Homo sapiens: one gene and its partners. The protein of the gene in region 3 interacts with the protein of the main gene of each other region in a pairwise test. Each region holds a gene or a part of one and is shown on either strand. Other genes may lie near its edges.

The links.
Region 1: the proteins of CLSTN3 (region 3) and TMEM54 interact in binary tests that used the Homo sapiens proteins (3 or more experiments, as listed by UniProt).
Region 2: the proteins of CLSTN3 (region 3) and ZDHHC22 interact in binary tests that used the Homo sapiens proteins (3 or more experiments, as listed by UniProt).
Region 4: the proteins of CLSTN3 (region 3) and PGAP2 interact in binary tests that used the Homo sapiens proteins (3 or more experiments, as listed by UniProt).

Annotation. Positions count from the first base shown.
Region 1 is NC_000001.11:32,898,384-32,905,945, forward strand, and holds the start of TMEM54 (transmembrane protein 54), read right to left. Parts: upstream 3,007-7,562; 5' UTR 2,856-3,006; coding exon 2,840-2,855; intron 1-2,839.
Region 2 is NC_000014.9:77,138,775-77,146,534, forward strand, and holds the start of ZDHHC22 (palmitoyltransferase ZDHHC22), read right to left. Parts: upstream 3,018-7,760; 5' UTR 2,829-3,017; intron 1,971-2,828; exon of another isoform or gene 1,769-1,970; intron 979-1,768; 5' UTR 965-978; coding exon 439-964; intron 1-438. UniProt on the Homo sapiens protein: Palmitoyltransferase that could catalyze the addition of palmitate onto various protein substrates and be involved in a variety of cellular processes. Catalyzes the palmitoylation of KCNMA1, regulating localization of KCNMA1 to the plasma membrane.
Region 3 is NC_000012.12:7,140,370-7,147,387, reverse strand, and holds part of CLSTN3 (calsyntenin-3 precursor), read right to left. Parts: intron 6,147-7,018; coding exon 5,984-6,146; intron 5,303-5,983; coding exon 5,249-5,302; intron 4,520-5,248; coding exon 4,362-4,519; intron 4,226-4,361; coding exon 4,077-4,225; intron 1-4,076. UniProt on the Homo sapiens protein: Postsynaptic adhesion molecule that binds to presynaptic neurexins to mediate both excitatory and inhibitory synapse formation.
Region 4 is NC_000011.10:3,803,651-3,811,568, forward strand, and holds the start of PGAP2 (acyltransferase PGAP2), read left to right. Parts: upstream 1-4,909; 5' UTR 4,910-5,001; intron 5,002-7,514; exon of another isoform or gene 7,515-7,599; coding exon of another isoform or gene 7,600-7,609; coding exon 7,610-7,774; exon of another isoform or gene 7,775-7,906; intron 7,907-7,918.

The DNA of each region.
Region 1 (7,562 bases), on a different chromosome or scaffold from region 3:
GAGGCCCTGGCCCTAGTGATGGACATTGGGTTCTAAATGTATTTCTGAATGACTTGGAGCCAGTAACTTGTCTTCTTTGAGCCTTGGTCTCCTCATCCATAAAAGGGGTTCGGGATGCCTTTGTGAGAATCCTTGGGACTCTAAGGCTGGACAAGCACACAGGTAGCTCTTAGCAGTAGCACTTGTTAGTGTTCAAGGTCATGAGTGGGGGGCGCTAGCTCAGGTCTCTAGCTCTAGACTTCGAGATCCTCCCACTAAGCTACCCATTCACTGATTCGTGTGTTCACTACACATGTTCACAGAGTGTCTGCTCTGTGCCAGGCCCTGGGGTACGACGGTGAGCTCCACAGTCACTCTCCAGGCCACAAGGAGCCAGAGTTCATTGGGCAGGAATTGGGCCCTGCTTGGTACTCAGATTCACGGATAGGGCCTGGTACACAGCAGATGCTGACACTGCTGCTGAACTGAACTGCCCAGAGCCAGGTGACTTGGGGAGGTAACTCAAGGCTCTGAATCTCCATGTCCCCATCTGTAAAATGGGAAGAAGAACCTTGTCTCTCAGTGGGTCCATGAGGAAGTGGATGGGAAAGTGTGGTGTACCCTGAGGGTACTGGGAAAAGCAAGCTCTCAGTGCAGGGGGAACCTGGCAGGATGGAGTGAGTGGGGGAAGCTGGGATCAAAAGAACACTGGGACTCATTCAGATGCTCTCAGTGGCCAAGTGGCTGCCCAGCCCTACCTGCACATGCCGGCTCCCGACCTGCTGTCTGAAATCTGCCCATAAGTCCTAGCTCTGCCTTCAAGGAGACACACCACACCCCCTGGCCCTGCCAGCCCCTCACTAGAGCCAGCTCTGAGACTTGAAGACTGTGGTCAGGCCCTAGAACTAAACATCCCCTTCTTTAGCTGCTTCTGATGGGATGTGACTCTGAGTCCCTTCCTAGACCTCCCTCTCCTCATCTGTGGTAGAGCGGTTTGGTCATATTTAATATACGGTAGCTCTGCAGCTGAAAAAAAAAAAAAAAAAGAAAAAAAGAGGCTGGGCACAGTGGTCATGCCTCTAATCCCAGCACTTTGGGAGGGCAAGGTGGGAGAATCACTTAAAGCCAGGAGTTCAAGACCAGCCTGATGAACATAGCAAGATCCCATCTCTACCAAAAAGATAAAAATAAAAAATTAGGCAGGCATGGTGGTGCATGCCTCTAGTCCCAGTTATTCAGGAGGCTGAGGCAGAAGGATCTTCTGAGCCCAGGAAGTGGAGGCCACAGTGAGCTATAATCGTGCCATTGCACTCCAGCCTGGGCTACAGAGCCAGAGACCCCGTCTAAAAAAAATGAAATCTCTACACTGGACGCTCTGGGACATCTGTCTGAAGCTGTGCCAAGAGACAGTCCCCAGGGAGCAGGAAGGGATGGGGCTATTCAGTCACAGACTTGCTGTGTGACCATGCACCAGCCCCTCCCCTCTGGGCCCCAAGTTCCACATCTATAAAATGGGGAGGCATTGGTCCAGCCAGTGTCTGAGACCCCTGGAGACTGCAGGACCCTCTGGAGCTGAACCAGGTCTAGCAGAAGCAGAGGGCAGACGATGGGCTGGACAGGCACCATGAGACTGGAATAGCATTGTGAAGATGGACTGCCAGCCAAGCAGGAAGGGGCATGGCAGCTTCAGCGCAGGAGCCTGACCCACCTCACCCCCTCCACCCACCTACCTGGGAGCTCGGTGTCTACCTTCCAGCTGAGGGCTGGACTCAATAACAACAGCATCCCAGGACCAAGACTTTGGTCAAAGAGGAGGCACGGTGCCAGCATGGGGCTGTGCCTGGAGCACTGGACTGAGCCTGGAGCAGTCCTTGACTTTTTAAATTAAATTGATTGAGACAGGGTCTTACTCTGTAGCCCAGGCTGGAGTGCACTGGCCTGATCGTGGCTCACTGAAACCTCTGCCTCCTGGGCTCAGGTGATCCTTCCACCTCAGCCTCCTGAGTAGCCGGGCTAAATTTTTTTTTCTTTATTTAAATTTTTTGTAGAGACGGATTTCACTATGTTGGCCAGGCTAGTCTCTCCTGGACTCAAGCGATCCGCCTGCCTCGGCCTCCCAGAGTGCTGCCTCCCAGATGAAGCCCAGCTGGCTTCATTTGTCTTACCACTGTGGGAGCGCATAGCAGCGCAGCCGGCAAGGTGCTAAGCGCTTTACTCTTAGAAGCTGCCCTCATCCTCATAGTAGTCCTAGGAGGTGGGAACTACTGTCCCCCTCTTACAGACAAAGAAACTGAGGCTCACAAGGTCTCTCGGCTAGACAGCGGGGATGCCCCAGGACTCTGCTGCCCACAAGCAGCATCACCGTGCCCAGGCAGTGGAAGGAGGGGGCACATTAGTCCCGCTCCCCCGCTGCTGATCCTTTTTGCCCACGGCTTTCCTTCCTGGCCTCGGGAGAGTGGAGAGTATGTAAGTGGGAGCCCCTTGTAAGGGTGGGGAAGCTGAGGCCTGGCCCCGGGGTCCCTTCTGGGTAAGATGGGGCTGCTCTCTCCAGCGTCTCCTCTGCCGCCCACCCGGGGGTCCCCGAGGGCAGTCGTGCGCCTCCGCAGGAAAGGCAAGAGAGGGCGAGGGTAAGAGACGCTACAGCCACATCGAGAAGACACCCGCAGCGCTCCTCCCCTCCATTTCACTGCTGGGGAAACTGAGGCCCAGAGAGGAAAGTGACCCGACCCCGGCCTCGTAGTAAGTTAGAGGCAGAGCAGGTGGCCTGGCCCCCTGGGGGCTCGGGTTCCGGGCTCAGTGCTCCGCTCCTGTGGGAGGGTTGGGGTGGTTCGGGGCCTCCCGCGCGCCCCCAGTCGCTCACCGAGGCGCAGACACATGTCGGCTCCGCGCTGGTCCCGCCCCCGGCTTCAGCGCGGCTCCCGAGGCTGCGGGCCGCCGGGGGACCCTGCTCCCATCCCGCTGGCCCGTCGCCCGCGCGCCCCGCACCGTCGCGCTCGCCCACTTCCCGCCCGGAGCCCGGGGCTGGGCGGCGCCGGACCGGCCTCCCTTCCCGTCACCCCCCGGGCCGCCCGGCCCCGCAGCGCCCCCGCGGCTCGTGCCCCTCCCGGCCGGTCGGACCGGCTGAGCAGCCCATGGCCCGCCCGCTGAGTCAGGCGCCGCCCCGCCCGGCCCGCCCGGCGCCGAGCCGCCCTCCCTCAGCCCACCGGCGGCGGCGGGCCCGCTCTAGAAAGGGAAACTGAGGCTCTGAGGAGCCGCCCCGCGCGGGCCCGCGGCAAGTTGGGGGTTGCCGGCGTAGCTGTGGTTACCGTGACTTGGGTGTGGCTCTTGGGCGGAAAGCCCCCGGGCCCAAGGCTGGGACGGAGAGGGGCAGCAGGGGCAGTGAAAGAGCTGCTGGGGATTGGGGTCTGCCCCTGCCTGCTGTGTGACCTCAGGCAAATCGCCTCCCCTCTCTGCGCTTGCCTTTAGCGCCCGCGAGTCTTGTCTTCCACGCTGAAAAAGGCGCTTTAAGTCTCCTTCTTAGTCGGGAGGGCCTTCAGTTCCGTCCTTGGAAAATCAGGGATAATTCCTGTCCCCGAAGGTCGTGGTGAGACAAAATAGGATACAAAAATTAGGTAAGAAAGCGCTTTCGGCCGGGCGCGGCGGCTCATGCCTGTAATCTCAGCACTTTGGAAGGCCTAGGCAAGCAGATCACCTGAGGTCAGGAGTTCGAGACCTGCCTGGCCATCATGGTGAAACACCCCCGCACCCCCCCCCCCGCCCCGTCTCTACTAAAAATACAAAAATTAGCCGGATGTGGTGGGGCAAGCCTGTAATCCCAGCTACTCTGGAGGCTGAGGCAGGAGAATCGCTTGAACCCGGGAGGCAGAGGTTACAGTGAGCTGAGATCTCGCCACTCCATCTCAAAACAACAAAACAACAACAACACGCTTTGGAAACTCTCCAGACTGTCTGTATGGACAAAGTGTAGACCTAGCAAGAGCACATAGTAGGAGCTTTATTAGTACTGCTCTGGGTTGCTGAGCCCTTTAATGTGTCAGGATGGACCCCAGTGAGGTCCCTTGTTAGTCTCAGCATCCCTTTGGCATAGGTACCATTCCTGCACCTTTGGGCTCAGAGACCACAGACCACTCACCCAAGACCACCAGCTGGAAGTGGTGGAGTAGGCAGGAGCCTGGAATCCCCTTGGGTCTCTGTGCCCAAGTTCTGTAGAGTGGCCACACCGTGGCCACCTCCCTGGGCTCTTTCGGTCCTTGGAGGCACTTACTATGGGAACTGGGCAACATCTGTTCACAGCTTGCCCCACTTACCCCACTGGGCAGTGTCCCAGAGGTCAGGGGCTGGCTGGCTGTCTCTGGGTGCTTGGTTGGAGCCTGTCCTGGGGGCTGTCCACTGTCTGTGTGTCTTTCTGCACACCTGTGCTGACACCTGCGGCGCTGTGTGTGTTGGGCAGTTGGGTCAGATGTAGAGCCTCTGGAGTTTGGAGAACGCATTAACACCATGGGAGGAAGTGGAGCCATTTCTCCTAGGAAGCCCCCCGGGGCATCCCATCTGGTAACCCCCCAGCAGAGCTGCTTCCCTGTCACCTGCTGTCTGAAGGGGGATAATGTGCAGGGAATTCCGGGTGGGGAGACATATTTGTCAGGTGGAAGGGAAGATGGGGGCAGTTTATGAAGACATCGGGCTGGCATCGGAATGTTGATGTCCTCAGACAATCTTTTAGTAGGGCAATTTGGGTAGTACTTACTCATATTATAAATGTTCAGACACTTGTGGCCGGGTGCGGTGGCTCATGCCTGTAATCCCAACACTTTGGGAGGCCAAGGTGGGCGGATCACGAGGTCAGGAGATCGAGACCATCCTGGCTAACACGATGAAACCCCGTCTCTACTAAAAATACAAAAAAAAAAAAAAAAAAAAAAAAATTAGCCGGCGTGTTGACGGGCGCCTGTAGTCTCAGCTACTCAGGAGGCTGAGGCAGGAGAATGGCGTGAACCTGGGAGGTGGAGCTTGCAGTGAGCCGAGATCGGGCCATTACACTCCAGCCTGGGTGACAGAGTGAGACTCCGTCTCAAAAAAAAAAAAAAATGTTCAGACACTTGTAACTGTGGCCCAGAAATTCCATTTGTAGATCTTTATCCTACGCACCAGAGTGCAAAGATATGCATGCATCTAATGGTGTTTGTGGACAAACTGTTCCTAATAGCAAGCAATGGCACCAAAGTGATAACCAAGAGCGATGCAGGAGAGTGACGGGAAGGATTTTGCTTTTTGTTTTACACATGGCTGTATGGTTGAAGTTGGAGTATTAGAATGAATTCATGCCTTGGTTTTGTTGAAAAGAAAGGAAGGGCCGGCCTGGCGCAGTGGCTCATGCCTGTAATCCCAGCACTTTGGGAGGCCAAGGCAGGTGGATCACTTGAGGCCAGGAGTTCGAGATCTGCCTGGCCAACACAGCAAAACCACCATCTCTACTAAAAATACAAAAATTAGCTGGGCATGGTGGCAGGCGCCTGTAATCCCAGCTACTCAGGAGGCTGAGGGAGGAGAATCCCTTGAACCCGGAAAGCGGGGGTTGCAGTGAACCGAGATTGTGCCACTGCACTCCAGCCTGGGCAATAGAGCAAGACTCTGTCTCAAAAAAAAAAAAAAAAAAAAAAAAAAGAAAATAAAAGAAAAAATAAAAAGAAAGGAAGGGCCCCTTCATCACCACTGCCCTGCCCTCATTCCACCAACAGCTTGTGATGCCAATGCCCATCTCCCAGGGGCTGCCCCGGAGAGCACAGGTGGTCACTGCAAAGCCGATGTCAAACCTCATGTGTGTGCATGGATGTGGCTTCTCTATCAGTCAGTGTCAGGCAGTCCTCTTTACTCTAACCCCTGCTGGAGCCTTCTGGAATTAGGTTGGGGACCTTTTAAATGCTTTTGTTTCCAGATGCATAGATGATGATTCTCTTTTATCCTTGGAACAACACAGAATTAAAGATAATCACTCCATTTTACAGATGAGAAAATTGAGGCCCAGAGAGGTAAAGGACTTTTTAAAGACCCTACAACATATATTGGTGGTAAAGCTGAGACTTGAACCTGGACCTGTCTGACTGTGAGGCTGCTCCTGACTTCTGAGTGTGTGTGTGTTGGGGGTGGGGAGAGCCACAGTCCCCAGGAGTGTGCCTGCCCTCTGGGACCTCTGAGGAAGGAAAACTTTCCACCTGCTTCTCTCCAGACCATAATTTCCCAGCCGTCAGCCAACCTCAGTGGTCTGAAGCTATTGCCACTTCTTTTCCTCATTGCCATGTGGCCAAAGTCCATCAGTGCCAGCTACCTGGCAAGCCTTGGCCTCTGTTCCACCCCTCTGCATGCTGGCCTGAGGTTCTGGAAAGAACTCCAGGTCTGAGCTCTAGTTCCTTATCCTCCATCAACTCACTGTGATATCCTGGCAGCTCACTGCCATTTCCTGGGCCTCAGTTTCCCTATCTGTCAAATGGGGATAATGATTTTCTTTCCAGGTTTCCCAGATTTTTTGAGCCATCAATGACTTGCGAGATATGAAAGTTCATTGGAAGCTATCCAGAGAAATACAAATAGCAATTATCTTCCTGGTACATTTAACAACCAGGTGTGGCCCGTGCACTTAGCTGGGAGCTGGATCTCCCCAGGGCAGGGGCTCCCAGGGGGCTGCTTAGCTGGGAAGGTGGGTTCAGGCTGCCAGTCCTTGTGCATCCCCTCCTCAATTTAAAGAAGGTTGCCATCCCTCCCTGATTTTAAGAACTGTTCCTCCATGTAAGTAAAGCCATCACACACAACTGTACCAGATTCTAGTTTATGTATGTATATACCTGTATATAAAACTAAAAACCAACTGACCATGCTTGTCTGAGAGAAGAAGAGGCAGTTAAAGGAGACTTTCACTATAGCTCTAAAGTTTTTTTTTTTTAAAGCAAATATGACATGTTTACAGTTATGGATTCTAGATGGTGTGAATAGGAGTGTTACATTAATTTTTGTATTCTTTTACATGTCTGGAAAAAAAACCCATTGTAGAAAAACTGAGAGAAAAACAGAAAAGTATAAAGCAGAAATCAGGCAGGGCACAGTGGCTCATGCTTGTAATCCCAGCACTTTGGGAGGCCAAAGCAGGTGGATCACCTGAGGTCAGGAGTTTGAGACCAGCCTGTCCAACAAGGTGAAACTCCATCTCTACTAAAAATACTAAAATTAGCCAATGTGGTGGCAAGTGCCTGTAGTCCCAGCTACTTGGGAGGCCGAGGCAGGAGAATCGCTTGAACCTAGGAGGCAGAGGTTGCAGTGAGCCGAGATCGTGCTACTGCACTCCAGCCTAGGCGTCAGAGCGAGACTGTATACCTCCGTTCACATTTTTGAAGTTTTTTGTGCCTTTCTTTCTTTCTTTTCCCCCTCCCTTCCTCCGTTCCTCCCTTCCTCCCTTCCTTCCTTGCTTTCTTTTCTTTCTTTCTTTCTTTCCAGATGGAGTCTTGCTCTATCATCCAGGTTGGAGTGCAGGTGCCATCTCGGCTCACTGCAACCTCTGCCTCCTGGATGCAAGTGATTCTCCTGCCTCAGCCTCC
Region 2 (7,760 bases), on a different chromosome or scaffold from region 3:
AACTGGGGACCAGGCAGAGGAATGTCATAGCATGGTTGTACCTCATGGGGCTACATGGAGGAATGGCCAGCACCTAGTCCTGCCTGGCACAGAGCAGGTGTATTACCTGGATGCCACAACTCTGTGAGCATATGGACAGCATGATGGATGAGAATGATGGGGGCAAGGGGGGATGTTACCAATAAAATACAGCATGTCCGCTTAATTTGCATTTCAGATAGCCAATAGCAAATTTTCTCAGTGTATCTCATACAATATCTGGGACATAATTATACTAAAAAATTATGAGTTGTTTATCTGAAATTTTAATTTAGCGGGACGGTCTGTATTTTTATTTGCTAAATCTGGCAACTTTTGGGGTTGGGGTTTGGGGCCCGGCAACCTTTGGGGTGGGAGGTCTTTGTGTAGAGCCCAACCTGCCCGCCAAGGCCCACTCACCGGAGAAGAACTGGCTGATGGAGGTGGGCAGGAGCGTGAGGAAGGCCAAGGGGTGGGCGAAGGAGATGGAAAGGACAGCGGAGATGTAGGCCACGCCGGCCACCATGGAGTAGAGGCAGGCCAGGGAGGTGTAGAGGCAGAACAGGACGAAGTTGCGCATGTTCCTGCTGCCGATGCAGTTGCCGGTGAAGAAACAGTGATGGTCGTGCCTCAGGGTGACTCTGGCGCACACTCGGCAGAAGTGGGTGCTAGGTGAGGGGCATGGAGTCTTCCTGGCCGAGGCCCCCTGGCAGGCCCCCAGGTCGTCTGGGGAGTTCTGGATGACAAGGACGTAATTGCCCAGGGCGTTGGCCGAGAGGAATAGGAAGAGCGCCCCGTGGAGCAGGGCGGGCGAGAAGAGCCGGGCGGCCGCGGGGTCCTCGCGCATGCTGGGCAGGAAGAGGAAGAGCTGCAGCACGAAGGTCACCAGGGAGATGCACAAGAAGTAGGCGGGGGCCACCACGTTGAGCAGCCGCAGGGCCAGCATCCTCGATTACATTCCTGCGGGGCCCGGGGTGAGAAGAGGACTGACTGACTACGGCGTCCAGGGGGCGCCCTCGCCCGCTCCTCCGTGCCGCGCGTCTGGGGCACTGCACGCGACTCCACGCCCCCAACCCCCTGTCCCGCGGATTTCCCCTCCCCAGTTCCCTAACCCCGGATCAGGCAGGCCAGAGACCCGAGCCCGCAGCGGCCTCGGGTCTAGGCCCCACCTGGGGGTGAGTGTTGCCTGGGGTTTTGAGCGAGCTCGGCGCCTTGGCGCGGCAGAGTCTGGCACAGGAGGGAGGGACTCGTTTGCAGTCTTTAGGAGTTGTGAGGGTGGGGGGCACCGGGGGATAGGACTCCTCCCCTCTGTGGATGTGGAAACAAGCCCAGGTTTGGGATTTCTGGTTCAGACCTCCCTAGGAGGAGAAAGGGAAGGATTTGGGGTCGGGGGCAGGAGAATCAGCGGCACTTGACCTGCTGGAAATCCTGCTTCACACTCCCCTTTCTCCGTCCCTGCGTCCCCACCCACACACACATCTTGGGCAGCACTCAGGGACCTCACCAGGTTACCCAAGGCTCTTTGGAGGTATGTGTGCGTGAGGGACCACGATGTGTGTGTGTGTGTCCTTGTCTGTGACTCTGTACGTGTAATCTGTGTGCGCTTGAGTATCTGTATTTGTGTATGTATATATCTGCGTGTACAGACACGCAGCCTCTGCTATCTAGCTTTAAAAAAATCAATTGAAACAATCGATACACTCACACTCGCTCTCGGGCACCGGGTGAGGTGGGGGCGCAACCAGAATACCTGTGTCAGCGGGTCCTGGCCAGCACATCTCTCCAACGCTGGCTGCCCGGGCTATTTCTTTGCGAAGAGCGTTTTCATTTGAGGCGAAATTAAAATCCCCCCTTCGCGCCCGCCTCCCGCCCTCCTGCTGAGAGAAACCCAAACAACCCTCATGGCGCCGAAATCCTTTCCATGCCGACAAGCCCGCCCTGGGCGCACGAGTGGATGCTTGGCCAGCCTTTCCTGGGATCGACCCCGCCGCCGTGCTCAGCCCTCACCACGTCCCCATCCCACCCCACGCCTCACAGCCGGGGTTCCTGGCCAGCTTCGGAAGCCACCGAGAAATAGGATTCCGTGCGCCCGAGAGAACTTTTCCAGGGGCTAAGGAATCGGCCAGCCGGAGGCGCGAGAAAAGTTCTGGGAAGGCGGTTGCACCTAGGATGGGTGGATGCCACGGGGCCTCCGTCCAGGCTGTCCCGTCCGCACGGGTCGACTGGTCACCTTGGAATCCCCTTTGCAGGTCCCAGCGCCCCCCGGGAACCCGCAGCCTCCGCGGAGAGCGTGGGCCTCTCCCTACCGCTGGGGCGCAGCGCAGTGCACGCCTGAGGGTGGTCGCCGGGGGCTGGGCACGCCCCCAGTCCTGCGCCGCCGGGGGCTGCGGCGGTGCTGCCCACCCCAGAGAGCCCTCGGCCTGGGGCTCCGGCGAAGCAAGTGCCTTCCCGGCGCCGGTCGCCAGGGGGGCGCGGGAGCAGCCAGATGCGCCGCAGCGCTGGGAAGGCGGCGAAGGACAGGGGCTAGGGGAGTGAGGGGCGCTCGGCAGGCAGCCTCAGCCCTGGCCCTGCGCGGGAGAAGGGACAGCAGAGACCGCCCGTGGGGCCCCGGGGTGTAGGGAGCTGTCCGTTCAGCCCTGGCGCCCGCCTCGCCCGCGGCAGAGGGCGGCACAGCCGGAGCCTTGGAAAGACCGGCAGCGCCGGCAGCCGCGGGCTTCTCGGCCACTGCCTCCCGGACGCACGGGAAGCCGCCCCCCGCGCCGCCGCCGCCGCACTGCCGCCGTCGCAGAGGGGTGAGGAAATCAACTCACCGAGCTCTGGTCGCCGACAAGAGGAGCCCCGGACGCCGGCTCTCGCCCTGCCCGAGGCTGCAAAGTTGTGGACTCGGCCCGGCTGGCTCGCAGCCTGCGCTTCGCTTCGGGAACTGGGCAAGTAGCGGGGATGTGGGGAGGAGGGAGCGGGCAGCTGCTGGCTTCCCACTTGGGCGCCAGCGAGTAAGGGCCAGGAAGCGGCGGGGATGGCAGCTGGGCACCCCCCAGCCCCGCCACCCCTCCCTCCGCTCCTGGGGGCGGTGCTCTGGCCGCCAGTCTCAGCATCGTGGACTTGCCCCCTCCTCCCCTCTCGATTCCCCTTGAGCGGGCTGGGGCGCCCTGCCTGGTTTCAGCGCCCGTTCCAGCTGGGAGATTGGGATTCAGCCCTGATGTGGATTCTCCAGCCATCATCCTGCCCTTCCCTCTCGGCTAGGTCCCACGACCTTCCCTGCTCTCCACTCGGACTGAAGGAACCCTGGGGGCTTGAGAGGTCAGCTTGCCAGGGCAACACCCATGAAGATCAGCGTCATCTCCTCGGAAGGGCTGTGTACAGAGGGTTGGGAGTTGGGACTCTGGAGCCTGTCTACCTGGGTTTGAATATTCACCATTCACTACTGTGAGATCTCAGATTCCAGTTTCTTCGTCTGTAAATTCCAGTGTGATCTTAGATTCCAGTTTCCTCATCTGTGAAATAGAGATATGAGGGTTAAATGACAATCTATGTAAAACCCTTAAACAGGGCCTGCCCAGGGCAAGCACTGCTTGATTAGATCATAATTAGACACTACTTATCGGGCCCCTACTAGGTAGCAGGCATTGTGCTAAGCCTTTAGCATAAGATGCTTCCTTAATCCTCTCAGCCTGATCTGTGAAGCTGGCTGAGCCCCATTCTGGAGATGAGGAGGTTGAAGCTCAGAGAAGCTAAGTCTCATGTCTAAGGTCATACAGCCATTAAGTGACAGAGCCTGGACTTGAACCTGGTTCTAGCATTAATGCTCCTGCACTCAGCCTCTACACAGCCCAGCATCACCCTGGGACCCACGGGCAGCTCTGATTTGAGAGAAGGAAAGACAATGGGAGTTTATCCAGACACAGAGCTTGAACTTGGAGCTTCTTCTTTGAGCCTCACCCCCACCTTCTTATTTCTATTTCCTTCCCCTTCCAGGGCTCCGCTATTCTAAGGTGGGTACTGTGATGCGCCAAGAGGGTAGTGACACCAATGTGTATCAAACAGTGGGGGGTGGGGGGAGCAGAGCCTTAAAAACATCAAACACTGCAGGAATATTGGTGCCATCACCATCCTCAATTTCCTGGGTGTCGCAGCTCACCTACCTGCCCTGTTCCTCTCCTCTCGGTGATGGCATACTTAATAAATAAACATTTATTGCTTTCTCAACTGGCTGATTAAAACAAGAGCAATCCCTTGAAATGAGGGCCATATGCTGATCAGCTCAGCCTCTATTCTTGAATAACCACACACTGTTTCCTCTGTAATTTATCAGCATACATCAAAATAAAAAAGAGGCCAGGAAACCTTTTCACATTCTAAAAGGATCTGACATGTAAGTGAAAGAACAGTATATGCCACATGGTGGCCGTGAGCAGCTGGTAGCCTTGTGAGTTCCAGTGGCCACAGGACAGACATGGGGAGGCACACATGGCCCTTTTCCCTTCAGAGCAGCTTTGTCTCATAATCGTGGCCGTCTGGGCCCCTTTTCACAAGCTCTGTCTGCCTCTCACATGGGCTTGGCAGGGAGGGAGGCTGGCTGGGGTGCTTGGGTTTGGGTATACTGACTGAAGATCTCCATTCCCCAAATACCTTGTGAGTCGGGTGGTATTTCTAATTTTATTTTGCATATGGGTGTGAGGTGGGAAGGTGTGTGTCTGAATCTGTGTGTATGAGGAAAGGGAAAGAGAGAAAGAAGCTAAGCGAACGTGGGAAGATGTTAGTGGGGGAAGGGAGTATTCAGTCAGGAAAAGGAGATCTGGTCGTGGAAACACAAATGGACAAGGACGATTATTTATTTAGAAATATCGTTTATCAACAGAAAAGGACATTACAGCTTCAGATCTAAAGCTAGTGGTTCCTCAGCTCCCCTTAAGGAATGGAGTGAAGGGAAGCACGGCAAATGTCATTTTGTTTTTCTAAAACTTATGCTTATCCCTGACAAAATCAATAGGGAGGCAAAATCAATATGAAAACTTCACTTGGATTCTGGCCCTATGAGAGTCAAGCAGACTAAGAATGAGCATTTTATTGCCATTTACCAGCTGTGTGACCATGAGCTGCTAGTCATTTAACCTCTCTGCTCTCAGTATTCTCATCGGTAAAATGGGAATAAGAATGCTGCTGTTATTTGTGGTGATGATGATCAAATGGGATCATGTAATTTAAGCACCTTAGCGTCTCCCACATCTTTAGGGCTCCTCTTTTCAACCACAGGACTCTCTTCACTTTCCAACTAAAATGAGAGCTCCTTGCCTATGTTGGAAATGTTTTGGGGTTTCTTCCATATTTCCTAATAGGATGATTTGCCCAGAGTTGACACTGAGTAAAAGTCTCTTGATCGATGAATTGCTACTGGTCTGTCTGTGAAAGGAAGAGCTATATTCTGAGGTCTTTGAAATGTCTGGTGAGGGCCAGATGCATTGGCTCACACCTGTAATCCCAGCACTTTGGGAGGCTGAGGCAGGCAGATCACCTGAGGTCAGGAGTCCGAAACCATCCTGGCCAACATGGGGAAACCCCGTCCCTACTAAAAATATAAAAATTAGCCAGGCGTGGTGGCCAGTGCCTGTAATCCCAGCTACTCAAGAGGCTGAGACAGGAGAATCGCTTGAACCCAGGAGGCAGAGGTTGCTGTGACCCAAGACCATGCCATTGCACTCCAGCCTGGGTGACAGATCAAGACTCTGTCTCAAAGAGAAATATCTGCTGAGGACACATTTGCCATTGATCTTGCAACCTGCCACCACCCACCCTGACTCTAATCTCATCCTCCATAAACAGTGACAGAAATGATTTATAAACCACACTCTCCATTGCTCTTGCTGTAGATTCCTATAGTTAAGCCATAACTGTACCTGCAGGCAGTCCCATGGGGACAGGGGCACAGATAAGCATCTCATTGCTGTCCAGCCCTTTCCTGGAGATATGCGCCCTCAATCTTGCTATTTGGTGGTGTTATTTGAATAAAATGAATTCCCTTTCAAGTGGAAATTATTCCACTTTGCTTCAGAGTGTTGTATTACAAGGAGAGAAATCCATGTAGCAAGCAGCTTCTGCCTTGAGTGAGTAACCCCGCCTCCATGTCTGTCAGGCCTATAATGCCCCAAATGTTTTGGATGGAGACTATTCCAAGATGCAAGGAGCTGCACCTAAGAAGGCTGGTGGTGGTTTTCTTTCATTCTTATGCTCTTATTTCAGATAGATCAAGGTGAAGATAGGCTTGGGTCAGGATGCTCTTTAGCGCTGACAGCAGATCATAGCCAGGGATAACCACAGAGTGTTTCCCAAGCCTGGGAAGGCTTACAAAGATGCCATCCCTGCCTGCCCAGATTTGGAAAACATGCAAGTGTAATCTTCATTTTAGCCAACTAAATACATGAAAATTGGATTATCACAGAGTTTCTATTTGGAGGTGGTAATTTACTTTGCTAACTATGTCTTCATTTTAACAACGATAACATTACTTTGATGTAATAAAGTGCTTTGCAGGCTACAAAGTCATCCACAAAATTAAAATTTCATCCCATGAATCTCTCTCAACAGCACAAACTAGCTGGGGTGAGAATTATCAAACCCATTTTCCTTATGGGGAAACTGAGGTTCAGAGATTTGCTGCATGTTAATTTGCAAGGCTTGACTATGTTTGATTTGAAATATGATTTAATATGCAAAACATATCTCATCGATATTTAACTTTTCTGGAACATGTCAGTTGCATAAAGGAAGCAGGTATGTAACATACTCCCCCAGAGTAACAGACCTGAAGGATCTCCCTTTACCTAAAACTGCTGTGCTCTGCACTCTGCATCCTGTCTACTCTGCTTTGTCTTCAACAACTTTTATCACCACTTGACAGGTATATATTTGTCTGTTTACTGTCTGTCTCTCCCCACTGAATTCTCAACTCCGTGAGAGTAGGATTTGAACTGCTTTATTCACTGCTATATCCCAAGTGCCTATAACAGTGTCTGGCACATAGTAGTAGGTGCTCAGTAAACATTGGTTGAATGAATAAATATAATATGCATAAACTTGTAAGCCTGCAGCACATTAATCAAATGCCCTCAGGCACTCTGCTGTTTGTCGTGCTGGAGGGGGTGTGTGTGATTAGGGGCAGGTATGCTCAGCCTCCAAGCTCACATGTCAAGGTAGAAACTACAGGTCTGGGTGACAAGTAAACCCAGTGGTCTCCCAGGTGATTGGTGCATCAGGGTGGAAATCTTGGGTTAGCTTGGGAGAGCCTCTTTTGCAGTATCCAGGCTGTGGAAGAATGAACCAATGGGCTCTTTCACCAATTAGCCATGGTTTCCAGGGACCGTTTAGGCAGTCCTGGTAGGGACGCCTGTGCCTGTGGACAAGCGAGTACCCAGCCCTGTGGAAGCGGTGGCAGCAAGATTAACTGGCCCTTTCATCTCAGAGCACGCAGGAGGCAGAGGGAGGAGAAAGAGGGGGTATAGGGAGGAAGAAGAGGAGGGAGGGAGAGGGCAGAGAGGAGAAGAGAGAAAAGGAGACAGGAAGGAGAAGAAAGGGGGGTAGTGAGAGAGTGCTCATTTATCTGTCTGACACACCAAGTTTATGTCTTCATGATGGAGGAGGCTCGGGAGGAGCAGGGCAAAATCAGCTGTCTCCATCGAGAGCCCTGCAATGCCAGGTGTCCAGGTTGGGAGGGAATGAGGCAGAAGGTGGACATCTCAATTACAGGA
Region 3 (7,018 bases):
TCTCTCTGTTGCCCAGGCTGCAGTGCAGTAGTGCCATCTCAGCTCACTGCAACCTCTGCCTCCCAGGTTCAAGCAATCTCGTGCCTCAGCCTCCTGAGGAGCTGGGACCACAGGTGTGCGCCACCACACACCGCCCAAGTCCACTGATCTTTCCACTAAACCACAGGCACCATTTGGGGCCTGGGTTTGCACCAGGGAAATGTATCTGTAAAGAAGTTTCCCCACTTGAACAAGCAGACTTCACGGTGGAGTTAGTGATCCAGGAGCATGGACTCTGATCCCCACGCTGGTGCTAGCGGAAATGATTTTACAGAGAGGACTGTAATTATTAGTGTTACTGAGCATGCCCAGCTTGAATGCTGGAGTAAAAAGGGAGAAGGCATCATCTCAGTAGGCATGATGAGCTCAGAGCCCCTGAAGTTGCCAATGCCCGGGATGTGCTGAGTTCCTGTACCACACGGAGCAGGGCCTATTACAGTCTGCCATCCAGATAGGCCTAGGGCAAAGCCCCTTGGGAAACAATCCCAGATGACCCTGAAGGCACAGGCTCCAACAGACATCCTCCCTGCAATGAGCAATGCTGTGCTGTGCCGCTGGTCTGGGAATCCCAAGGGGAATAGGAGGCCTGACCCAAAGGCACCGTTGGTCTGGTAGAGAGATTAGACGTGGCACACAAAAGTTAAAAGAAAGGCAAATATGGTCATCGCCATATGAGTGGAACAAACAACCAGAAGAGTTCAGAGGAGGGAGAGGTTAGTTCTGCCTAGGATAAGAGGAGGGTGCTTGGAAAAGGAAGGTAGGAACGATCAGAGAAAGTAGCAACTGAGCTAGCCTTTGAAGGAGGGTAGTACTGACCCAGAGTGGATGGCGAGAAGCTTACTAAGGGGAGTAGAGGAACATGAGGCAGGAACCACCAGAAGCCAGATGGCTGGCAGCTTTAAATGCCATGATAAGATCTGTTTTTTTTTTCTCTCTCTCTAATTTTTTAGAGACAGGGTCTCGCTTTGTCGCCCAGGCTGGAATGCAGTGGTGCAATCATGACTCACTGCAGCCTCGAACTCCTGGGCTCAAGTGATTCTCCCACCTCAGCCTCCTGAGTAGCTGGGACTACAGACTTGCGGTCTGTTGGTTGTGCAGGCTGGTCTCGAACTTCTGGCCTTAAGTGATCCTCCCACCTTGGCCTCCCAAAGTGCTGGGATTACAGGTGTGAGCCACGGCACCCAGCACATTTGACATTTTTATGCAGTGGGCAAGAGGAAGCCACCGACGTCTTTTTCATCAGGGAAGTGTGATGATGAAAACTCAACTTAAGATCACTCACCTAGCCTCAGAGTAGAGGATAAATAAAATTCGAAGACTAGAGATAGGTCAGCTAGTTAGGAGGCAATGGGCCAGATAAGAGGTAATAAGACCTGGGCTAGAACAGTAACAGCAGCAAAAGAAAGAGGAGACAGATTTCAGACACGCGGCACAGAGGCAGGGTCCAGGTGAGCTGGCAACTGATGGGCAGTGGAGGATAAAGACAGGGAAGAATCAAAGATGACTCAGAGGTTTCAAGCTCTGGATGACTGCAAGGACAGAGGCACCATTACAGAGAGAGTTCAGGGAGAGAGGCTGGTTTGGGATTGCAGTTGATTATTTCAGCATTAGCTCTTTCGGTTGAGGTGCTAGCAGAACTTCTAGATAGAGGTTACAGGAAGCAGATGGAAAGTCAAGAGCTGTGGAAAGAGGACAAAACTAGAGAAATAGATGTGGTATCTATCTGTTCAGGGGTCAATTCCACAAGTAAATGGGCTTTCCAAGAAAAATACTAAAAAAAAAAAAAACTTCAGGAAAACTTGCATTTAGGCATTGACCAAATAGTTGCATAAATCTGGCTTTAAATAGACAGAGGTCCAAGAACTGAAAACTGGAAGCTATGAAAGCCACAGGGACAGGGGCAAGGAAATGCATCAGGGAAAGGGAGGTATTGCTAGGTACCTGTCTGTGTCTGTTACATACACACAAATGCGCGCGCACACACACACACACACACACACACCCCTCTATATTTTCTCCCGTGACCTCAGGGAAGTATTAGGATAGCACCAACCATGTAGTAACCTTAGAAATGGAGAAATGAAAACTCTGTTTCTTAACCTCATAGAGAAAACATCAAGGCCCCTTTCCTCAAAGGCAGGTTCCAAGCCCTTGGATAAACCTCTATCCTGGGCATGAAAAAGATAGCAGGAATTCAGATGAGGCAGTCAGCAAAGAGAATGTCAACTCCTCCCCCCGCAGGAACTCCCCTTGCAGAGCTCCACCCTAGGCCAAAAACCAGAGCCCTCCCTTCTGCCATGGCTCCTCAGCACTGGAGGGGACGAGGCAATGCCTTGGCTTCTGAGGGATCAAGCCTTTCATAACTGGATGACAGCCCTTTAACAACTGGAGCTCTGACTGGGACATGGCGGGGTGCATACTCAGCAATCAGCTGCACCCACATTAACTCAACTGCCTGTGACCTTCAGCTCCACACCCTGAACCAGCAAATTCCCAAAAGCCACAGCCCGGGGCCTTCCACAGCTCTAACTGTGAGGCCTGATAATCACGCCCAGTCACCCTCTAGGGCTCAGAGCCCTCTCCCCTCTAAACCCACCCCTCCCAGGATAGGGGCAAATTTGAGATGTTTATCTTCATATAGCTCACAGAGAAACTGAGGCAGAATCGGGGAGAGGGGTAACAAGATTGGAACGCAGAAATCCTAACTCTTAAATCATGTAATTCACCCACTAGATGGCAGTATCTCCTAAAAACCGCCCATAAACCATAATAAGGGGTGAAAATGCCTTTATGTAATAATAGCCAGCATTTAAGCGGCATCCACTCTCTGCTAGGCATTTGATCCAGATTATATCATGTAGTCATCGTAACAATTCCACGAGTTAGACTCTATTGCTATCACCACTTTATAGCATTTGCCCAGTGCCAAAAAGCTAGCAATAGACCCTATGCTCTTAACTATCATACTTTCGTTGCCTCTCAATTGATCTGTATTTTTAAACATGTAATATATACTCAAACCTTGAAATAATCTACAATTTTTCTTTTAAAGACTCCAAAAGTCATTCACTTAGAATTCAGAGGTCAGTAAACTTTTTTTTTTTTTTTTTTTTTTTGAGATGGAGTCTCGCTTTGTAGCCCAGGCTGGAGTGCAGTGGTGCAATCTCGGCTCACTGAAACCTCCGCCTCCTGGGTCCCAGTTCAAGCAATTCTCCTGTCTCAGCCTCCCAAGTAACTGGGATTACAGGCACGTGCCACCATGCCCAGCTAATTTTTGTATTTTTAGTAGAGACAGGGTTTCACCATGTTGGCCAGGCTGGTCTTGAACTCCTCGTGATCCATCTGCCTTGGCCTCCCAAAGTGCTGGGATTACAGGCGTGAGCCACCGTGCCCGGCCAGCAAACTTTTTCTATGAAGGATTAGATAGTTCTGTTTGAGGGGGCCATATGATCTTTGTCCCAACTACCCACAGTTCTGCCATCACAGTGAAAGTAGCCATAGACATATGCAATGAATGGGCACTGCTGTGTTCCAATAAAACTACAAAACAGGTGGGCAGGCCAGATTTGGCCTAGGACTGCCAACCCCCAGACTTAGGCCATCGTACGTGACCTTGCAAGAGCTTGGTGAAGCAAGATTAAAACAAGTGAAGCAGCCAGGACTCACCATTTGCCCGAGGTTATCCAAGCAATTCGCATTGAGTCAGAATTAATGTCAGGTCTCCCCACTCCCAATCCTGTGTCCCACTTTACGTATCAGCACAGAGGCATAGAGAAGATCAAAGCCCGGAAACCCTAGATGTGTGACTTGGTAGAAAGAGTAACAGATTGATTGTTGAGAAATCTGAGTATAGTCCAGACTCTTCTACCAATATTGCTATGTGACCTTCAGTGGTCAATTGTCTCCATTTGAGGGCCCAATCTCCTCATCCATAAAACAAAAGAGGTATGCCTAGCTCTAGGTGACGCCTTAGGCCAAGGAGCTGTGACACTGTCTGGCTCTGCTTGGTGATTTGCCCTGCCCCACCCAACACTCACTTGACAGCAGTGGTGAGGCGCAGGGGCCTGACGCCGGGCGTGGCAAAGCGCAGAGTGTTCATGTAAGCCACATGCTGCAGGGCATGGTTGAAGGTCTCCACATCATCCCCCTCCAGGGTGAGCAGGGACTGTGAGGGGTTCACGTGGACCTGGGCCCCAGACACAGATACAGCTGAGAGCAGGGCCAGGAGGTGGCAGAGGAAGGGAGCAGAGGTAGAGGGGTAGGGCAAGGGGGTGGGGCAAGGGGCATGCTGGGAAGAACAGGGCTAGAGGATGGGGCAATACCTTCATGCCTTTGCCCAGGCTCTCGAAATCCCTATAGTCCAGCCCCTCCCGACATGCATAGAGGCACTCGATGACCTCGCGGCTCTCCAGGCGACCTGAGCGCACGCTGAAACCAGCCAGGTAGCCATGGAAGTAGTGGTGGATCGACAAAGGGTCTCCTAGGGTAGGAACACAGGAGCAGGACGGGAGGTGAGAAGAGAGGAGGATGGAAAAGGACGAAGGCTGAGAGAAAGGGAAAGGAGAGAAAGAGCAGAAGAGTTGAGAAAGAAAAAAAGGAGAAATGTGGAAACCAAAAAAAAAAAAAAAAAGGAAAAAAGAGAGATGAGAGGTGAGGGAGAAGTGAAGGTAAGGGGGGAGGCTAGAGAAGGGAGAAAATGAGACAAAAGAAGACAGAATAAAGCCAGGGGAGAAGAAGAAGGGTGAAAAGTAGAAGCAACAAAGATGAGAGGGAGGAAGAGAAGGAAACAGGACCAACAGGAGGAAAGAGTCAAAACAAGGAGGGAGGGGGAGGCGGCAGGAGAGAACGTCTTTCCAGTGACATGCAGGGAGACCAGGATGGATGTGAGCGAGCTTCACAGATGCCCAGACCTTCCCCTTCTGCGTGTCTGACTCCTGACTCCTGCCACCTCCCTTCTACCATGTGGAAAGCCACCAAGAGAGCCCCATTCTTCATTCTGTGGGCAGGACAGGATACCCAGAACCCAGCCAAGCTGCCTCTAGCCTTACCACTCCAGGAGCCCCTGCCCTGCTGTATTTCTTGGAGGCTCTGCCCCCTGGTGGCCTAGGAGGCTGTCACAGGCTGGATAGGATTTGGGGTGGAAAAGGGATCTCAGAACAGAAAGTGAAGATGAGAACTCTCTGGTCTCCAGTTCTTACACACGGAGTACCTTGGGTGGTGTCTGTACTGTTGTCTCCCTTTTCCTTCTCTTTGTTCTTCTCCTCTGGGGATAAAAAAAAAAAAAAAACAGTGCTGGTGAGCTCAGGGATGTGGAGAGATTGACAGAGAGGAATGAGATGTCTTCCTCTCATCCCCATGAGTGCTCTCATGCCCACATGGGATTCTGACCCTGCCCATGTATAACTTGCAACCTCTCAGCTCAGCCCCAACCCTTCTTTTGTCATGTTCCAACCTCTCCAGCCTCTATTATAGACAAACCCCCAAATACGATATGCTGCTGAGGAAACACGTGGGCTCTGGTAAGACAGACAGGCACATGTGCACACACACACTCCCAAGAGGAGAAAAATTTTTTCAATGGCTTAAAAGTTGGAAGACCGAGGACACTCTAAGGGGTTACTCTCCTTGAGCAGGGGAATGGGCTATGGAAGTCATCATCACTTTGATGGAAAAAAGTGGAAACTGGCTGGAGTTACAGAGAGAGAGTCTGGGGATGCGTGAGAAGTTAATTCCTCCAAGTCAGAGGTGATGACCCATTGGATTAGTGGGAGATACGGGAGGGAGGCTGTGGTCCCTTCCCATGGAGATCTTCAGAGTCACCCTGCACAGCTGCAGAGAGATGCAGGAGGCGGCCTCAGCTGCTGGGTCAGACTGCCCTTGCTCCTCACCAGCCTACCTCCCTTCCCAAATCCTGAACCACTGGAGTCTTCACTGAGAAGCTTACCAGTCCAGCAGGCCCCAATCATGAGAGCAGGCTCCCTTCGGGGTGGGTGGATGAGGCCATTGTCATGGATGAGGGCAGGGTCGAAGGAGATGCCGTCGGTATAGAGTGTGACTGTGGGGAACTCGAGGTTCAGAGCGTAGTGGTGCCACTCATCATCACAGACCTGGGAGAGTAGGGTAGGGGCAAGAGCCTCTCAGGTAATTCGTCTTCAGAGAGCTAACCCTAGGCACTGCCCCATCTCCTGGGAGACAGGGGACAGTCCCTTTATTCCCAGTTCTACCAACAGGGCTTACTAGTGCTTTGCTGCCTATCCAGCTCGAGGAATAACATCCTTGTCCAAAATCTATCAGGCAACCAACCTAGTAGCAAAGATTCCACTCTTCAGGTAAATCGTTAAAGCTATAAATATTCCTAAGAGGAGTAACACACTTTCATGAATAAATTCCCTGCCCCCCGAACTTATGTATTACATATGTGTGTAAGGCACTGGAAACTCTAGAGATGGGGTTTCCTTCTGTCCCCCAGGCTGGAGTGCAGTGGTGCAATCATAGCCCACTGAAGCCTCAAACCCCTCGGCTCAAGCAATCCTCCCACTTCAGCCTCTGGGGTAGCTGGGACTACAGGTATGTGCCACCATGTCCAGCTAATTTTTTTATTTTTTAGAGATGAGCTATCACTATGTTGCCTAGGCTGGTCTCCAACTCCTGGCCTCCAGTGATCCTCTCAGCCTCCCAAGTAGCTGGGATCACAGGTTATCTCTAGGATAGCTTCTAACCCAACATTAAGCACTAAAATAAATATTGCTTCCCTTTGCAGTCTCTCCTAGGGCCAGCCAAGATGGAATGGGGGATGGTCAGAGGAAAAAGGGGCAGAGAGTACTCTGCCTCATCCAGTTCCAAATGTTGGGGTCCCTCAAGGCTCAGACCTAGGCCCTCTTCTCTTTCCTCTCTACACTCTTTTCCTAGAAGTCACCTCATCTGTTGCCATGGGTTTGGGTACCATAGTTATACACTGGTAACTCCAAAATCCACATCT
Region 4 (7,918 bases), on a different chromosome or scaffold from region 3:
CTCCTGACATTAAATGTTCCACCTGCCTTGGCCTCCCAAAGTGTTGGGATTATGGGCCTGAGCCACCGTGCCCAGCCAATACTTTGGCTTTTAACCAGAACATTTAGTCTAATGCATTTAACGAATTTACTGCTATATATATATATATTTTTTTTTTTGAGACACAGTCTCATTGTGTCGCCCAGGCTGGAGTGCAGTGGTGCGATCATGACTCACTGCAGCCTCTGCCTCCCAGGTTCAAGTGATTCTCGTGCCTCAGCCTTCCTAGTAGCTGGGACTTCAGGCGCGTGCCACCACGCCTGGCTAATTTTTGCATTTTTAGTAGAAAGAAGATTTTATCATGTTGGCCAGACTCGACTCAAACTCCAGACCTCAGGCGATCCGCCTGCCTCAGCCTACCAAAGTGCTGGGATTACAGGCATGAGCCACCATGCCCAGCCCATTTTTCCCACTATACTAGTTTGAAAGTTAAATTCTCTTTTCCTATTAGTATTATTTTAGTGATCTCCCTAGAAATTACCACATGCATTCTTAACTTACCAAAGTGTCATGCTCATAAATACCTTTACGGAAGGATAGAGTTTCCTGAGATGGAGGCAGGAAGAGAGAACATTCCAAGCTAGATGAACAGGGAAGCAAGCAGATGAACAGGGGAAGATTTAATTGCTATCTGAGTCAGAGTGAGGCTAGAGCAAGATGAGTGAGCTGGGGGTGGGTGGTTTAAAGCCATCCAGGAAGGATGTCTTGGTCATGAAAAAGATCTTTGAGAAGAACAAGAATAACTCCTCCTCAACCCAGGAAGGACACTGATTTTCCTGAGGCTTCCCAGGAGGCAGTGGCAGAGCTTGGTCTAAAGCTGGATGTCTTTAGCAGTCTATGTCCCTGCCTCTATACCTACCCCAGCCATGCTCACTGTGTCCCCTTTCTAGCAATTCCTCAATCTCTGCTTACCTGTCTAAATACTGCCCATTCTTCAAAACCCAGTTCCATTAAATCAACCCAACAAATATTTTCTTTTTATTTTTGTATTTTGTATTTTTATTTTTAATTTGTATTTATTTATTTTTTTGAGGTGGAGTCTCGCTCTCTCACCCAGGCTGGAGTGCAGTGGCGCAATGTTGGCTCACTGCAACCTCCGCCTCCTGGGTTCAAGCAATTCTCCTGCTTTAGCCTCCCAAGTAGCTGGGATTACAGGCGCCCGCCACCAGGCCTGGCTAATTTTTGTATTTTTAGTAGAGATGTGGTTTTGTCACGTTGGCCAGACTGGTCTCGAACTCGTGACCTCAGGTGATCTGCTCACATCAGCCTTCCAAAGTGCTGGGATTACAGGCGTGAGCCACCGCACCCGGCCCAAGAACTCTTTTTATTTCTTTTATCTTCCCTCACATAAATCAAGGTAGGCGAGGTCTTTCAAACTGATAGTGAAATAAAGAGATTTCAGAAAGGGTCGGTGACAGCCAAGGTCAGACAATACAAAAAAAGTTCAGGACGAGTTCACACTGTGGCTGACATGTCTAATCATAATGACCATCATGTACTGAGTACCTCCCACATGGCTGGCACACTGCTACATTACCTCTAATACAACAACCCTATGATGTGGATATTCTTTTTTTTTTTTTTTTTTTTGAGACTGGGTCTTGCTCTGTCACTCAGGCTGTTGTGGAGTGGTATGATCTCAGTTGACTGCAACCTCTGCCTCCAGGGTTCAAGCAATCCTCCCACCTCAGCCTCCTGAGTAGCTGGGAATACAAGTGTGTGCCACCACACCCAGCTAGTTTTCTGTATTTTTTGGTACAGATGCTGTTGCCATGTTGCCTAGGCTGGTCTTGAACTCCTGGGCTCAAGTGATCCTCCTGCCTTGGCCTCCCAAAGTGCTGGGATTACAGGTGTAAGCCACCACACCCAGTGTGGATATTCCTAAATCAATTTTACAGGCTGGGCACGGTGGCTCATGCCTGTAATCCCAGCACTTTGGGAGGCCAAGGAAGGAGGATCGCTTGAGCCTAGGAGTTCAAGACCAGCCTGGGCAAGACAGTGAGACCTTTTTTTTTTGAGACACGGTCTTGCTCTGTCTTCAGGCTGGAGTGCAGTGGCGCGATCTCGGCTCACTGCAACCTCTGCCTCCCAGGTTCAGGTGATTCTCCTGCCTCAGCCTCCCAAGTAGCTGGGACTACAGGTGCGCGCCATCACGCCTAGCTAATTTTTGTATTTTTAGTAGAGACAGGGTTTCACCATGTTGGCTAGGATTGTCTCGATCTCTTGACCTTGTGATCCGCCCACCTTGGCCTCCCAAAGTGCTGGGATTACAGATGTGAGCCACCACGCCCCCGCGAGACCTTGTTTTAAATAAATAAATAAAACCATTTTATAGACGAGGAAACAGAGGCTCAGGGCTATATGGAGAATTGCCCATATTTCCCAAATCACCAGAGAATTAAAGAATTAATCTAAATTAGAGCACCTCAAGGTTTGGGCATTGGGGGTAGTCTAGAGGCAGGGAGAGGGGACCCAGCCTCAGGGAATGGTACTTAGGGCCAAGAGAACAGACAAGGTGTCAAGATAGGGAACAATAGCCAGGAGCAGACACCCCTGGTTGGAGCTAGACAAAGAGGATGACATGAAGCCCCAAGGCAGAAAACCTGAATCTAGTTGCCAAATTTGGAGAGAGGTAGTTCTTTTTGTAAAGTTTTGCTAGTCCATTTGTCCTGGGACCTTAAAGAACAGGATAGGGGAGAACTCAAAATCAAGAAAAGTAGTTTTTAGAACAAGACACTCTGAGTGCGCACCTTCTCCAGACTTCGGAGCCCCTCAGAGTGCGTCTGAGGTATCTCTGGGTCCTCCACCATTGCTCCACATGAGGCCTGTCAAAGAGAGGGCCTAGACTGGGTGAATGAACAAAAGTGAACACATGAAAAAGAGCTCTGGCAAATTAATCAACAAATGCTAAGTGGCATTAACAGCATATAGTGGATTATGTGAATTATCTCAGGTACCAGACTTGAGTCCTGGTTCTGGCATGTATTAGCTGTGTAAGTAGGTAACTTGGTTTCCCTGTTTTCCATTGTAAAATGAGGATATTAAATAGTATCTACTGGCGGAGGCTCATGCCTGTAATCCCAGCACTTTGGGAGGCCAAGGCAGGTGGATCACCTGAGGTCAGGAATTCGAGACCAGCCTGACCAATATGGCGAAACCCCATCTCTACTAAAAGTACAAAAATTAGCCGGGCATGGTGGTGCCGCCTGTATTCCCAGCTACCCGGGAGGCTGAGATAGGAGAATTGCTTGAACCCGGGAGGTGGAGGTTGCAGTGAGCCGAGATCGTGGCACTGCACTCTAGCCTGGGTGACAGAGTGAGACTCTGTCTCCAAAAAAAAAGAGAGAAAGAAAGAAAAAAAAAAGGCCAGGCGCGGTGGCTTACACCTGTAATCCCAGCTCTTTGGGAAGCCAAGGCGGGGGCAGATCACGAGGTCAGGAGTTTGACACCAGCCTGGCCAAAATGGCAAAACCTCGCCTCTACTAAAAACTACAAAAATTAGCTGGGCGCAGTAGCGGGCGCCTGTTAATTCCAGCTACTCGGGAGGCTGAGGCAGGAGAATCGCTTGAACCCTGGAAGCGGAGGTTGCAGTGAGCCGAGATCGTATCTATTTTCACAGGTTTTTTTTTTTTTTTTTAATGGAGTTTCGCTCTTGTCGCCCATGCTTGAGTGCAGTGGTACGATCTCAGCTCACTGCAACCTCTGCCTCCCGGGTTCAAGCGATTCTCCTGCCTCAGCCTCCCAAGTAGCTGGGATTACGGGCGCCCGCCACCGTGCCCGGCTAATTTTTGTATTTTTAGTAGAGACGGGGTTTCGCCATGTTGGCCAGGCTGGTGTCAAACTCCTGACCTCAGGTGATCCGCCCGCCTCGGCCTCCTAAAGTGCTGGGATTACAGGCGTGAGCTACCGCGCCTGGCCCTCACAGGGTTTTTATGAGGATTAAATAAATGAGATAAGAAGTAAGAGTGCCTGGGATATACTGGGTGTTCAGAATGTGTTATTGCTGTGAGGATTTAAGTGGAAAAGTGCGATGTTAGGTATGGCTAACTTAGAGGTCCTCCACCCGCTGCAGATGCTCTGACTACCCACCAGTGTGCTTGCAGGAGGAATTCTTGGTCCCTTCACCCTCCTTCCCTGTTGGGCTGGGATGGTCTTTGCAAAGGGAGCCAGGGGTCCCCCTCAAGTTCTTTCATGGGTCAGTCATGGTCAGGGTAGGGAGGGAACTCTGGCAGCTGGTTTTGGGGGATCAATCCTCTCATTGTGGGGAGACCCAAGGCTGGTGGCTGGAAATCCTTTCTGCGCTACGTAGGACAGGGCGCCCTCTCCTGAACAAAGGCGGGAACAGCTCTAGGCCAGAGTTTCTGGGATGTGCCTCACCGGGTCTCACTGCCTGCAAAGGTGCTCTTCCCATTGCTGAAATGTCCCCAACCGCCCTGACGAGCAAAGTTTGGGGGAGGGGCGCCAGGGCTGGGAGGAAACTGGCTTAATGTTTCAGAAGGGCGAGGCTGGATAGTTCGGTTAGAATGGAGGTGCGAGGCAGGAGAGACGGGCGGATGAGAAAGAAATCCGGCCCCTGTTGAATTAATTTTGTGTTCTTTCAACAGGTAGATGGAACGCAGCTGAGAGGTAAGGCGACAAGGTGGCTTATCCAACATGCTCAAACTCAGGTATCCAGAGCTCTTCCGGCTGCCCTCACGCAGCCGAAATTAGTGGGGGCAGACCCGGGCTGTAAAGCATGGTTTGAGGACACGCCAGATTGAGGAGGAGAGCCAGGGGTCGGGGTCTCCAGAAGCGGGGAGGAGCCAGCGGAGGATCTGGGCGCAGTTTCCTCTCTAAGTTCCGCCCCGAGAGCGCCGGCCCCGCCCCCGCCGTTCGCGCTCTGACCAGCCCGCAGAGCCAGCCCCCGACCCCGGGCCACCTGGGCCCCCGGGTTCCGCCGGCACTCTCGCCACCACCGCGTGGGTGAGTATGGGCATGGATGTGCTGGGCTGCCGGGCAGCCCCACTCGGGAGCTTGGCCGCGCGGTCTGGCCTCTGCAGGGCCGGGCCCCACGCTGTGGGAGTCCTGGTACCTGCCGTCCTATCGCACACACTCTGTTTCCCAGGAACTGCTGCTCTCTGGACTTGCCGAGCTGGCCCCCTTCTTCTCCCTCCCCAGCGTGGGGCCGGGTGTGCAGGGGTTGAGCTCTCCCTTTATTCCGCGGGGCCTCCTGGTCAGGAGTCCTAGGTGGGGAGGATGGGGCCCCGGGGTTGGAACCCCATAGAGTAGTTTTGAATGGCAGCTGTGCCATTTATTAGCCTTGGCCTTGAGTAAGTGTTTTGAACCTCCCTGAGCCTCAGTTTCCTCATCTGTAAAATGGAAATATACAGGCTGTAGCACCTACCTCATAGAATTATGGTGAGATTAAAAGAGACAATGTATATCAAGTACAGAGCAGGGGGCCTAGTATTCCGTAGGCACTCAGTAAATGTGGGTTCAGACTCGAGGCTGAGGAGATCTCTAGGGACTTTGGAGCTGAGGTAGCTCCAAAGAAAGCAATTTTCAGCTAAGTAGTACCTGTGAGGAATGTAGAACTATCTGCAGGCTGAACAATTGCCCTTCAGCTCCACCCTGAGGTGTGGAGTAGAATGACCAAGTTGGAAGGACCTTAGAGGTAATCTAAACCATGTGATTCCCATGTTGCAGAACTGTGGAAACAGATCTAGAGTGCTTAAGTGGCTTGCCAAAGGTCACACAGCTAAATGGGAGGCCAGGCATACCTCCAAGAATTGGAATGGATTATCCCTTGAACCTCCTCATCAACTCCTGATTTGGGCAGTGCCTCTTCATTCCCTGAAGATCTAGTCTTCAATTTGGGAATCCTAGTGGTTCCTCAGGGATCTAGAGCTGCAGCCTTCAGGGAGGGATACTGGGAGGGAAGACTAGTGCTACTGCAACTGCAGAGTCTAGGTTTGGGCTGGGTGAGGAAAATGTTCCCCATCTAGGGCCCTAAGGGACTTAGAGTCCATTTAGGGATGATCCAGGGAATGTGTTTTTTTTCTGGGAGGGTCACCAGAGCCACTTCCAGCTCCCTGGGATCCCTGATGCTCCTAAAAGGGAGAGAGGAACTTGAGCAATTGGAGCAGGCTGCCTGATCAGGTCTGGCAGCTGGGGGAAAATGGGTGAGAATGTGGAGGCGTAGCCACCTGGCTTGTTCTGGAATGCCAGGATGGCAACCTAACTGAGATCAGGGTTCTTTTTGAGGGTGGGACTAAAGGGAGAGTCTTGTGGGTGGGGTCAGGAAGAGTTGGGACTTGATTTGACAAGGTCTTTGAGCCCAGAAGGGTATATTCTTTATGTGTCTGGAGCCAGCCCTAGCTTGGCAACAACAAGCCAACGTTCCAGGGATGGCTTTCCCTTCAGCTCAGCACAGGGCTTTGAGGAAGAGCCAGCCCTTCTCTCTCTCTGAGTGTCTTGGTTTCTCTATCTTTACAATGGGAATAGGGCTAACTGCCTCATCTATGTAGATTTTGGTTTTTCCTTTTCTTCCTCCTGTGAACAGGTGCCTCTTCTGCCTCTCTCACTCCAGTCCTAACCTGACCTTTCTCAAGTTCAGACACAGAGAGGAAGGGGTCAAGGAAGGCCAGAGTTGCAGTGTGTAACTCTTCGTGGGTCCCACATGTATCTCTTTGTTATGTGATCCTGAGCAGATTCCTGCTCCAACTTTCCCTTCTGTATACTGTGCGGAGCTGGGCTAGGATTGTTGGTATACACTTATTTGTTATAGTTCCTGACCTTAGCTACCCTTATCTAAGGGGGAAATCACAGCCCCCAGGAACCCTCATCTGTTCACAGGAGGGTGATGTGGACAGCCCCCTGGGCACTGGGAAGCCTCCAGAAGCTGACCAAGCAGCTCTCTCCAGCAAACAGCAATCCCAGGCTAGCACCAGGCCTGATTCTGCAAAGCCTTTCACCCTGGGGGCACGTGAGGGAGCAGGCTGGGACAAGCAGGGGGCTTGGGGTTCTGTCAGCTTCCATGGAATCCCTGCCACTGTGGACTGCGGTGCAGGCACACAGAGCCTGGGAAGGGACTGAAGGTGCAGGAGGGCCCTGGGCCAGTGGGGAAGCAAATGAGAGCTGATGAGAGGCCTTGAAGCCTGGAGGCTGGGCCGAGGCTCAAAGGCCTGGGGGAGGAGATGGGCCATGCCATCCACTGGTAGGTTTTAGGGTTGGTTCTTGAAATAAAGAGAGACACTTATTTAAAGCAGCTTCTCTAGTCCTAGGCCTGTCAAGCTAGGCAGAGAGGAGTGAGGAGAAGCTCTCCCAGTCCATTCAAGCTTTATCCTAGCACAGATTTGGTTCATTGTCTTCCCTCTGAAATTGAGGTGGAATGTTGTCTTGGGATTCTGAGTCAGTCTTCCTCATCCAGGGCAAGAGCTATCCAAGTTTAGGTGCCTTCCTCCTCAGACTCCCCACCCCACAGCACACAGCTAATTTTAGGACTGAGCACAAGGGCTGACTTTATCACTGAGTGCCAGCCTGGCTGCCTGGGGCCCTGACAGCATGCCACTCCATCCCCAGGTCTGACAAGATGTACCAGGTCCCACTACCACTGGATCGGGATGGGACCCTGGTACGGCTCCGCTTCACCATGGTGGCCCTGGTCACGGTCTGCTGTCCACTTGTCGCCTTCCTCTTCTGCATCCTCTGGTCCCTGCTCTTCCACTTCAAGGAGACAACGGCCACACACTGTGGGGTAGGGCATGGGGACACTGATACCTCATATTCAGGCCGATCTGGATCTTCTTTAGATCTTGAATATCTTTTAACAAGATTAGCCAGCTCTCCACTGGGGCCCATCAAACATACGGGGCTGCTGGGGGGATGCCTGCAAATTGAA